Linked DNA regions of Homo sapiens: region 2 is linked to region 1. Evidence: fine-mapped expression QTL. Tissue or cell type: esophagus muscle. Region 1 holds a variant in brackets; the other region holds the start of a gene. All regions are shown on one strand. Distances are from middle to middle.

Region 1 (5,207 bases):
ACCTCAGCCACCCGCAAGTAGCCGGCACTACAGGCATGCAACACCATGCCTGGCTAGGTTTTTTTTTTTTTTGAGTCGGAGTCTCACTCTGTCGCCCAGGCTGGAGTGCAGTGGCGCGATCTCGGCTCACTGCAAGCTCCGCCTCCCGGGTTCACACCATTCTCCTGCCTCAGCTTCCTGAGAAGTTGGGACTACAGGCGCCCACCACCACGCCCGGCTAATTTTTTGTATTTTTAGTAGAGATGGGGTTTCACCATGTTAGCCAGGATGGTCTTGATCTTCTGACCTCGTGATCTGCCCGCCTAGGCCTCCCAAAGTGCTGGGATTACAGGCGTGAGCCACTGCGCCCGGCCACCTGGCTAGTTTTTTAAACTTTTTGTGGGCGGGGGGCGGGGGGGGGGGTGTCTCACTTTGTTGCCCAGGCTGGCCTTGAACTCCCGGCCTCTAATGAGCCCAAAGAACTGGGATTACAGGTGTGAGCACCCAGTCCTCCTACTTATTCTTTAGAGTTCATTTAAATATCACTTTACAGGCCCGGCGTGGCAGCTTACGCCTGTAATCCCAGCACTTTGGGAGGCCGTAGCAGGTGGATCACGAGGTCAGGAGTTCAAGACCAGCCTGGCCAAGATGGTGAAACCTCTTCTGTACTAAAAATACAAAAAAAAATGGCCGGGCACTCTGACTCACACCTGTAACCCCAGCACTTTGGGAGGCTGAGACAGGCAGATCACCTGGGGTCAGGAGTTCGAGACCAGCCTAGCCAACATGGTGAAACCTCGTCTCTACTAAAAATACAAAAATTAGCCAAGCGTGGTGGCAGGCGCCTGTAATCCCAGCTACTCCTGGGAGTAGCTGAGGCAGGCTGAGGCAGGAGAATTGTTTGAACCCGGGAGGCAGAGGTTGCAGTGAGCCGAGATCGTGCCATTGCACCCCAGCCTGGGCAACAAGAGTGAGACTTCGTCTCCAAAAAAAAAAAAAAAAAAAAAAAAAAAAAGATAAAAATACAAAAAAATTAGCCGGGCGTGGTGGCAGGCACCTGTAATCCCAGTTACTAGGGAGGCTGAGGCAGAAAATTGCTTAAACCCGGAAGGCGGAGGTTGCAGTGAGCCGAGATCGCGCCACTGCACTCCAGCCTGGGCAACAGAGCGAGACTCCATCTCAAAAAAATAAAAATAAATAAAATAAAATAAAAACAAATAAAAAATAAAAAATATCACTTTACAAAGGGAATCCTCTTTAATTAGGTTAGCGCTCCCAGCTATATTCAATTATTTAAAATATATTTGTTCTCCACCTCCTATGCGCTAGATCCTATGCAAGGTACTGTGAATACAGTGGTAACTTAAAAAAAAAACAAAAAACAAAAAACTTGCCTTTGCCAGTTCCTTGGGGAATAATCTAGTGATATTTTATAATCCCATAGCACTCTGTACGTCTCCTCTTAATTACTTACTAAATGTCTTCTCCCTTCCCCCACAACTGAAACAAGAAGTCAATGAGGGCAGGTCCCATGTCTATCTTGTTAACCATTTCATCTCCAGTATTAAGCACAGTACTCATAGTACCTGGCACATAGTTGCTAGTCCGTAAGTATTTAAACATTAAATAAATGATACCTCTAAAAACTAATCAAAGCCAACAGCTTTAACTAAATAAATCAGTCCTTTAAACACATAGAAAAATTAATTATTCAAAAAGACACATTCCGACCGGGCGCAGTGGCTCACGTCTATAATCCCAGCACTTTGGGAGGCCGAAGCAGGTGGATCACTTGAGGTCAGGAGTTCGAGACCAGCCTGACCAACATGGTGAAACCCCATCTCTATTAAAAATACAAAAACTAGCCAGGCATGGTAGCATGCACCTGTAATCCCATATACTTGGGAGGCTAGGGCAGAATTGTTTGAACCCAGGAAGTGGAAGTTGCAGTGAGCCGAGATTTCACCACTGCACTCCAGCCTGAGCGACAGAGTGAGACTCTCTCTCAGAAACAAACAAA[CAAAA/A]AAACACATTCCATTAAATCATCAACACTTTACCCGAAAAACTAGAAAACACCTGGAAAAATATCAAGTATTTATCTTGTCCTTCCTATACCAACTGTATTTCCAATCAAATATCTGTGGCAAAAGTTTTTCTTTACATAACTCCATATAGTAACTGTGGAAGAAATGGCAGAAAAAAAAAATCACCAGGTTGCAACCTCTGTCTAATGAAATAATTTACTTAGGCAAGGTCTTTCTTCAATTGATGAACCAGTAGACTGAAACATTAGATGCAAGATTGATAGAAAGCTTTACAGTAGAGGGACCAATGGCATTACTAACAGTGGGACAACCAGGCATCGGGTGTCCCATGAGGAATGCAACACTTGCCAAAAGAAAGCTGAACTTAAATGAAGGTTCCAGAGTTAACTTCTAATTCAAAAAAAAAAAAAATGTGGAAGACATAGGAACAAGTCAAATGTGACACCATGAAAAAGCAGACAATGCAGAATGTCAGACATTCTACAGGAAAACTGACAACAGATTTTTCATCAAGTTCAAAGACATGAGGTAGAAAAAGAAAATAGGAGGGACTGACCTAGGTCAAGGGTTCTCAACAGAGGGTAATTTTGTCTCCAGGGGATACTTGGCAATGTGTGGAAACATTTTTGGTTGTCGGACTGGGGGCTGCCACTGGCATCTAATGGGTAGAGGTCAGGGACGCTGTTAAACATCCTACAATGCATAGGACAAGCCCCTCCACAACAAAGAATCATCCTGCCCAAAATGTCCATAGTGCCGAAGCTGAGAAACCCTGATCTATACTAAGAATCTTTTCAGTATTCTGTTTGGACTCTGACTTGAACACACCAAAAAAACATTGTTTGGGAACAGACTGTGAGGACAGAAAACAACAACACTGTTGAGTCAATTTGGGGTATTTTAACATGGATGGTATCAAAGAATTATTTTTAGTTCATTAGTATGATGAAACAATAAAGGAAATCTGAACGGATCAGGTATTAGATGATACCAAGAAACTGTTAACTTTGTTAGGTGTTAACAATGTGTTTATCTAAGAAAGGGTCTTGGCCGGGCACGGTGGCTCACGCCTGTAATCCCAGCACTTTGGGAGGCCAAGGCAGCTGGATCATGAGGTCAGGAGTTCAAGACCAGCCTGACCAACATGGTGAAACCCCGTCTCTACTAAAAATACAAAAATTAGCCAGGCGTGGTGGCATGCACTTGTAATCCCAGCTACTCAGGAGGCTGAGGCAGGAGAATCGCTTGAACCCGGGAGGCAGAGGTTGCAATGAGCCAAGATCGCGCCACTGCACTCCAGCCTGGGCAACAGTGTGAGACTCCATCTCAAAAAAAAAAAAAAAAAAGAAAAGGTCTTGGTTTTGTTTTGTTTTGTTTTATAGAGGTACTTGACTAAGAATGTAGGGATGAAATGACATAAGATCTAAGATTTGCTTTAAAATATTTCAGCAGAGGCCAGGTGTGGTGGTTCATGCCCATAATCCCAGCACTTTGAGAGGTCAAGGCAGTGTACTGTTTGAGCTCAGGAGTTCAAGACCAGCCTGGGCAACATAGCAAAACCCCGTCTCTACCAAAAAAAAAAAAAAAAAAAAATAGCCAGGCATGGTGGCATGCACCTGTAGTCCCAGCTACTTGGGATGGCTTGAGCCTGGGAGGCAGAGGTTGCAGTGAACTGAGACTATGCCACTACACTCCACCCTGGGTGACTGACAGAGCAAGACCCTGTCTCAATATATATATATGCAACAATAATAAAAAAGGCCTAGGTGAAGTAAACATGGCAAAATCTTGATAGCTGTTGAATCTCAATGATGGGTATGTATGGGGAATCATACTTTTTTCTCTATTTTGTGTATTTTAAAAATATTTCACGATAAGAAATTTTGAATGACACATTCCAAAAACAAAATATGAATCAAAGAATAATAAATATGTAGAAGGATTGCCAGAGACTGGTACTGGCATGAAGAAATATTTATCATCTAATAAACCAACATATCCTAAGTCTAGAACATGACAACTCTCGTATTTTATTCAACAAATCTGTGGAGAGCCTACAATTTGCAAGGCACTGTCCTAGGTGCTACGGTAATAAGAAGATAAGTAAGATAATTCCTGTCTGCAAGGGACTTACAATCTGAAGAACAGAACCAAACCAGATGGGTGAGCACAAGCAGGGCTTCATGGAAACCTTGATATTTGAGATATGCCTTGAAAGCAATACAACTCTAAGGGGAAACAGAGGGTTGAGGAGGTTAGGATGAATTCTAAAAAGAAGAAAGAAAGCCACAGGCTTCAAGGCTCTTCTTGATCTGGTCTATGTGCACCACAAGTCTCATTTTCCACCACTCTGCCTCTCACCAAAGAATTGCAGGCACTGAATATTCAAGACACTGAGTTCATTACAGAAAAGGGTACAAAGGCAGAAAAGTAAAAGCACTGTTCATGGTAACTATACATATTAAGGCCTGATCTGACACACACACTCCTCCCAAAAAAAGCCAAAAATACAATTATTTTGTCTCTCTGTAAGGTCAGAAAAACAGTCTAGTAGAGTGAGAATATAAATGTCCTATTTTGGCTCAGACTAACTGAGAATGTTTGACAACAAAAGCACTAAAGACTTCAGAGTGGGGTGGGAAAGAGGACAGAAAGTCTGTCTCTATAATAGAGCAATCTGGGGAAAATAAACTGGTGAGATGGTACAAATTTGATGTAAGCCAACAGAATCATTATTCTACTACTTTATTTCAGCATCCCAAGTGTTTTCTCCAGAAGATGTGCCAAGCATCATTTCTTAAAACAACTTGCTTCTGTTCTTAATTTCTAATGCCAAACCACCGTAAAATTATAATACTGCATCCCTATCTTTTGGAAATCTTTTATAGGTAAATCTGAGCGTTTATATTACAAGATTCTCTTTTTTCCTTAGTGAATCTAAGGTAAATTAGTAATCGCTGAAAAAGTGTCTACTTTAGGAAATCATAACAATTGATTTATTCTGCTTTAGTTTGACCTTCCCTCTCTCAAGGGGGAACTCGTTTATTACTGTTACCCTGTCAATTTGTCTGTTCTGCGGGATAAGAATGGCTGACTCTCTCATGAAAAGATATCACCAAACTTTTTTTACGTTGGCCAAATTGCAAGGCTGTTTCTTTGGAGTGAATGGTAATGACAATGAAA
Region 2 (5,132 bases), 470 kb after region 1:
TCTTGAACTCCTGACCTCAGGTGATTTGCCTGCTTCGGCCTCCAAAAGCGCTGGGATTACAGGCGTGAGCCACCGTGCCCAGCCTGCTACTTCTTAAAAGTTTACAGTAATAGACAATGCTGAGGCACCCTGGGACAGTAATGCCACCGAATACCAAACTAGGACATTTTTGAGACTGAAAGGGGACAAGATCTGTAAACCTAGATTACCCTAGAGAGGTGACGTTGCTTGCTTTAATACTTTGGTTGCCTTATTAATTTTTCAAAAATTGCATCCTATTTTTTTGGTTTTCAAAATAAGAAAGACATACTTGAATAAAGTTATTTCCTCTTCAAAGTCTTTCTAGATTCCACTTTTCCCCATGCTGAGTTAAATGCCTTTCTCTTTGGTTCTGGGGCAGTGGTTCTCAATGCTAGGGGGTGGGGTAAAGCTGGAATTTTGGTCCTTTCTCCCCTAAGGGACATTTGGCAATGTTTAGAGACATTTTGGGATGCCTAGGTCAGAAGGAATGCCACCGGCATCTAGTGCGTAGAGGCCTGGGATACAGCTAAACATCCTACATTGCATAGGAAAGCCTACACAGCAAAGAATGATCAGGCCCCAAAACTTAATGGCGCCAAAGTTGAGAACCCCTGCTGTATGGTATGTTTGTCATAGCACTTCATAAAGACAGCTGTAGGCCGGGCACGGTGATTCACACCTGTAATCCCAGCATTTTGAGAGGCCAAGGTGGGTGGATCACCTGAGGTCGGGAGTTCGAGACCAGCCTGACCAACATGGAGAAACCACGTCTCTACTAAAAATACAAAATTAGCCGGGTATAGTGGTGCATGCCTGTAATCCCAGCTACTCGGGAGGCTGAGGCAGGAGAATCGCTTGAACCCGGGAGGCACAGGTTGCAGTGAGCCAAGATAGCACCATTGCACTCCAGCCTGAGCCACAAGAGCGAAACTCCGTCTAAAACAAAAACAAAAACAAAAAAAGGCCAGGAGCGGTGGCTCACTCTTGTAATCCCAACACTTTGGAAAGCCAAGGCGGGCAGATCACCTGAGGTTAGGAGTTCAAGACCAGCCTGACCAATATGGAGAAACCCTGTCTCTACTAAAAATACTAAATTAGCTGGGCGTGGTGGCACATGCCTGTAATCCTAGCTACTCGGGAGGCTGAGGCAGGAGGATGGCTTCAATCCGGGAGGCTGAGGTTGCCGTGAGCCGATATCGCGCCATTGCACTCTAGCCGGGGCAACAAAAGCAACACTCCGTATCAAAAAAAAAAAAAAAAAAAAAAAAATCTGTAATTGTCAACTGATTGACCTACCCAGCTAGACTGCAACTTTCATAAAGACAAGTGATACATGCATGTTGTAGAGTGTTTGGCTTGCAGTTGAAACTTAATAAGGATTGGAGGAAAGTGAGAAGACACATCCAGATTCAAATTTAGGGACCTGTGGGATCATGCTGTTTGGGTTTTTTTTGAGCCATTTCCCACCTCCCTTTGGGTACTAATCAGTCAACTGATAAGCATTTCATTCATTCAACTATCTATCTTATCTATCGATCATTATCATCTATTTATTTGTTTTTGAGACAGGGTCTCTCTTTGTCGCCCAGGCTGGAGTGCAGTGGCACAGTCACGGCTCACTGCAGCCTTGACCTTCCGGGCCCAAGTGATTCTCCTGCCTCAGCCTCCAGAGTAGCTCGGACCACAGGCGCTCGCCACCATCCCCGGCTAATGCTTTTGTCTTTTGTAAAGGCGGGGTCTTGCCATGTTGCCCAGGCTGGTCTTGAATTCCTGGGCTCAAGCGATCCTCCCGCCTTGGCCTTCCAAAGTGCTGGGATTACAGGAGTAACCCACCGGGCCCGGCTGGAAGCCTAATTTATACTTTTTTAAAGATCATGCTGGCTTCTCTGGGAGAATATGTAAAACATCTATTATACACAGAATCTAAAATACTTGCCATAAAGTAGTTACACTCTCGGATACCTATTGTCAAAAGGGAAGTCTCCCAGAAAATATGGGGGCGCTGTAGCCGCCGGGTCAGCCGAGTCCACTCTCTGGTACTTTTAGAGACGTCGGTCGCTTCCGGGAGAGTCCGCGTCTCCCGCACCTTCCTCTCTATCAAACGCCGTCTCTGTGGTAGCCGGGGCCCCGCCCCTCCTCGGACTCTACCCAGTACTGAACTAGGGGCAGCTGGGCTCCAGAGTCCCTCGGGTCTCAGGTCATGGCGGTCGCGGGGCCCGCGCCCGGAGCTGGCGCCAGGTAAGCAGGGCGGTCGGGGAGGAGGTTTGGGAGCAGGAGTTCCGGGCTGTAGGGAATGGGCTTTCCTGCCCTCCGTGCCTCGTCCGCCGCCCTGGCGCCCCCGTCTCGCCCCCGTGACTTCTGAGAGAAAGAGGAGCTCTCGAAGGGGCGTCCGCCCTCCCGCCGCTCTAGGCCGCTCCGCACCGGCCGCGGCCCCCTCCGTTCTTGGCCGGACTTGTGCCATCTCCTGCGGTGTGGGACCCTCACCCTCGCAACTGGCATTCTTTTTTTGAAAAGAAGAACCTCAGGTGCACAAAATTGAGTTGATCCTTCTCAGTTCTTGACACCCTGTGGGCCAATGCAAGGCTCCTTGTTTATTTTATCACTTCCTCTCTTCGTTCCTATTCCCAGACCCCTTTCACTCCCCTTTTCAGACAGCCACTCTGGTGTGTTATATAAGTGGCTTTACGGTCCACCTTGGGTAAATTTGTGCAAGTGTTACTTTGAAATCTATATAGCGGTTTCGAATTCTTCAATATAATATGCTGTGATTTTTCTTTAAACCTTTTTCCTCAACATTGTGTTTTTGAGTCCATCCATGCTAGTCATCTTGTTTTCACTTCTGAGTGCTTGCATGAGGGGTGCTGTGTGCATAGACTTATTCCCCTAGTGGTGGATAGATTTTTTTCTAGTATTAACACCCCCACAAGCCACACTGTAACGAATATTCTGGCAGTTGTCTCCTTGTGCATATTGTTGCATTTCTCTGGGTATCCACCCCAGAGTTGGGTCCTGGTCATATCTAATTTTGCTGGATTGTTCTTTGGAATGGTCACACTAGTTTATACTTCCCGACGGGCAGTGCATAAAGCTTCCTGTTTCCCGGTATCCCTCCATCGTTCAGTGGCGGCTGGTTTTGTAATGTTTATCAGTCTGGGGGGTGTAAGGTGGTATCCCATCGTGTACATTTTCTTTCTTTCTTTCTTTCTTTCTTTTGAGACGGAGTTTTGCTCTTGTTGCTCGGGCAGGAATGCAGTGGCATGATCTCGGCTCACTGCAACCTCCGCCTCGGGTTCAAGCGATTCTTCTGCCTCAGCCTCCTGAGTAGCTGGGATTACAGACGCGCGCCACCACACCCAGCTAATTTTTTGTATTTTTAGCAAAGATGGGGGGGTTGGCCAGTCTGGTCTTGAACTCCTGACCTCAGGTGATCCACCCGCCTCGGCCTCCCGAAGTGCAGGGATTACACTTCCCGACGGGCAGTGCATAAAGGAATTACAGACGTGAGCCACTGCTCCCGGCCTACATTTTCATGTGTTTATTAAACGTGGGTTTTCCCTTTTTTGAATTGCCTGTTTATATCCCTTCCCACTTCTCTGTGGATTTCCTATGTTCCTGGCTTGCAGGAATTCTTGTAGGCTCTAGATTTAGATCCTGGCCATGCCCGGTGGCTCACACCTGTCATCCTATCACTTTGGGAGGCTGAGGTAGGTGGACCACTGGAGTCCAGGAGTTCAAGATCAGCCTGGGCAACATGGTGAAACCCCATCTCTACCAAAAATACAAAAATTAGCTGAGCGTGTTGACGCACGCCCGTACTCCCAGCCACTAAAAAGGCTGAGGTGGGACAGTCGCTTGAACCCGGGAGGCAGAGGTTGCCCTGAGCTGAGATCGCACCACTGCATTCCAGCCTGGGCAACAGAGCAAGACCTTGTCTCAAAAAAAAAAAAAAAAAGATTTTAGGCCAGGCGCGGTGGCTCACGCCTGTAATCCCAGCACTTTGGGAGGCCGAGGCAGGTGGATCACCGGAGGTCAGGAGTTCGAGACCAGCCTGACCAATATGATGAAACCCCGTCTCCTACTAAAAATACAAAAATTAGCCGGGCGTGGTGGCATGCACCTGTAATTGCAGCTTGTCAGGAGGCTGACACAGGAGAATCACTTGAACCAGGGAGGCGGAGGTTGCAGTGATCCGAGATTGCGCCGTTGCATTCCAGCCTGGGCAACGAGCAAAACTCCGTCTCAAAAAAATAAAGATTTCAAGTCCTTGTTGGTTTTGCACTCTGCAGATACCACCTCCAAGTCTTCTAACTTAATCTATGGCACTGTGTTGAATAAAAACATTTAACTCTAATGAAGTTAAATTCATCAGTTTTCCCCTGTATAGGTTTTTAAGGTATCTTCATTAAGACATTTTTCTACATTTCCTTCTATTAACATGATAGTGTTACTTTTCACGTTTAGATTTTTAATCCATTTGTAATTTTTTAAGTTTTTTGTTTTTGGTTTTTTTTTTTTTTTTGAGACGGAGTTTTGCTCTTGTTGCCCAGGCTCTTGTTGCAATGGCGCAATCTCAGCTCACTGCAACCTCTGCCTCCCAGGTCCAAGCAATTCTCCTGACTCAGCCTCCCGAGTAGCTGGGATTACAGGCATGAGCCACCACGCTTGGCCAAAGAATTTCCTTTGTATCCGTGGTCTGTTCCCAGCCTACCATCTTCAGCATTTGAAAACCATTCTTTCTGCATGGCCTGGACCCTCTACAGAACAATGTGGATGAGCTTAATAACTACTCCCTAAGGCTTAATTATTGTCTTGGGCTTTTCTCTGCCTCCCCACCTTCTCTTCAGGCCCAGGTTAGATCTGCAATTTCTCCAGCGGTTCCTGCAGATACTGAAGGTTTTGTTTCCTTCTTGGTCATCACAAAATGCCTTGATGTTCCTGACCCTTTTGTGCCTGACCCTACTGGGTGAGTGAGTGAGCCCAGACTAGAGGAGGGAGGGGAGCTCTGGTTTGGGGTCCCTTTCCATCTTTTTTTTTTTTTTTTTTTTTTTTGAGACAGAGTTTCTCTCTTGTTGCCCAGGCTGGAGTGCAGTGACATAATCTCAGCTCACTGC

The links. PIP is the estimated chance that this variant, and not a neighbour inherited with it, causes the effect.
Region 2: it holds the start of ABCD4, and the variant in region 1 is fine-mapped to the expression of ABCD4 in esophagus muscle (GTEx, PIP 0.95).

Annotation. Positions count from the first base shown.
Region 1 is chr14:74,765,047-74,770,253 of GRCh38, reverse strand. The region is part of intron 1 of YLPM1 (YLP motif containing 1); the gene reads right to left. Among named protein-coding and RNA genes, the nearest start is that of YLPM1, 4.3 kb to the right of the region's middle. The variant CAAAA/A (reference allele first, on the strand shown) is at 2,000.
Region 2 is chr14:74,300,002-74,305,133 of GRCh38, reverse strand. It overlaps ABCD4 (ATP binding cassette subfamily D member 4), which reads left to right and starts at 2,200. Exons shown (of 19, transcript NM_005050.4): 1 at 2,200-2,259; 2 at 4,866-4,984. The coding sequence starts at 2,222. It also overlaps a transcript of VRTN not described here. RefSeq lists an enhancer at 1,752-2,111 and a silencer at 2,372-2,451.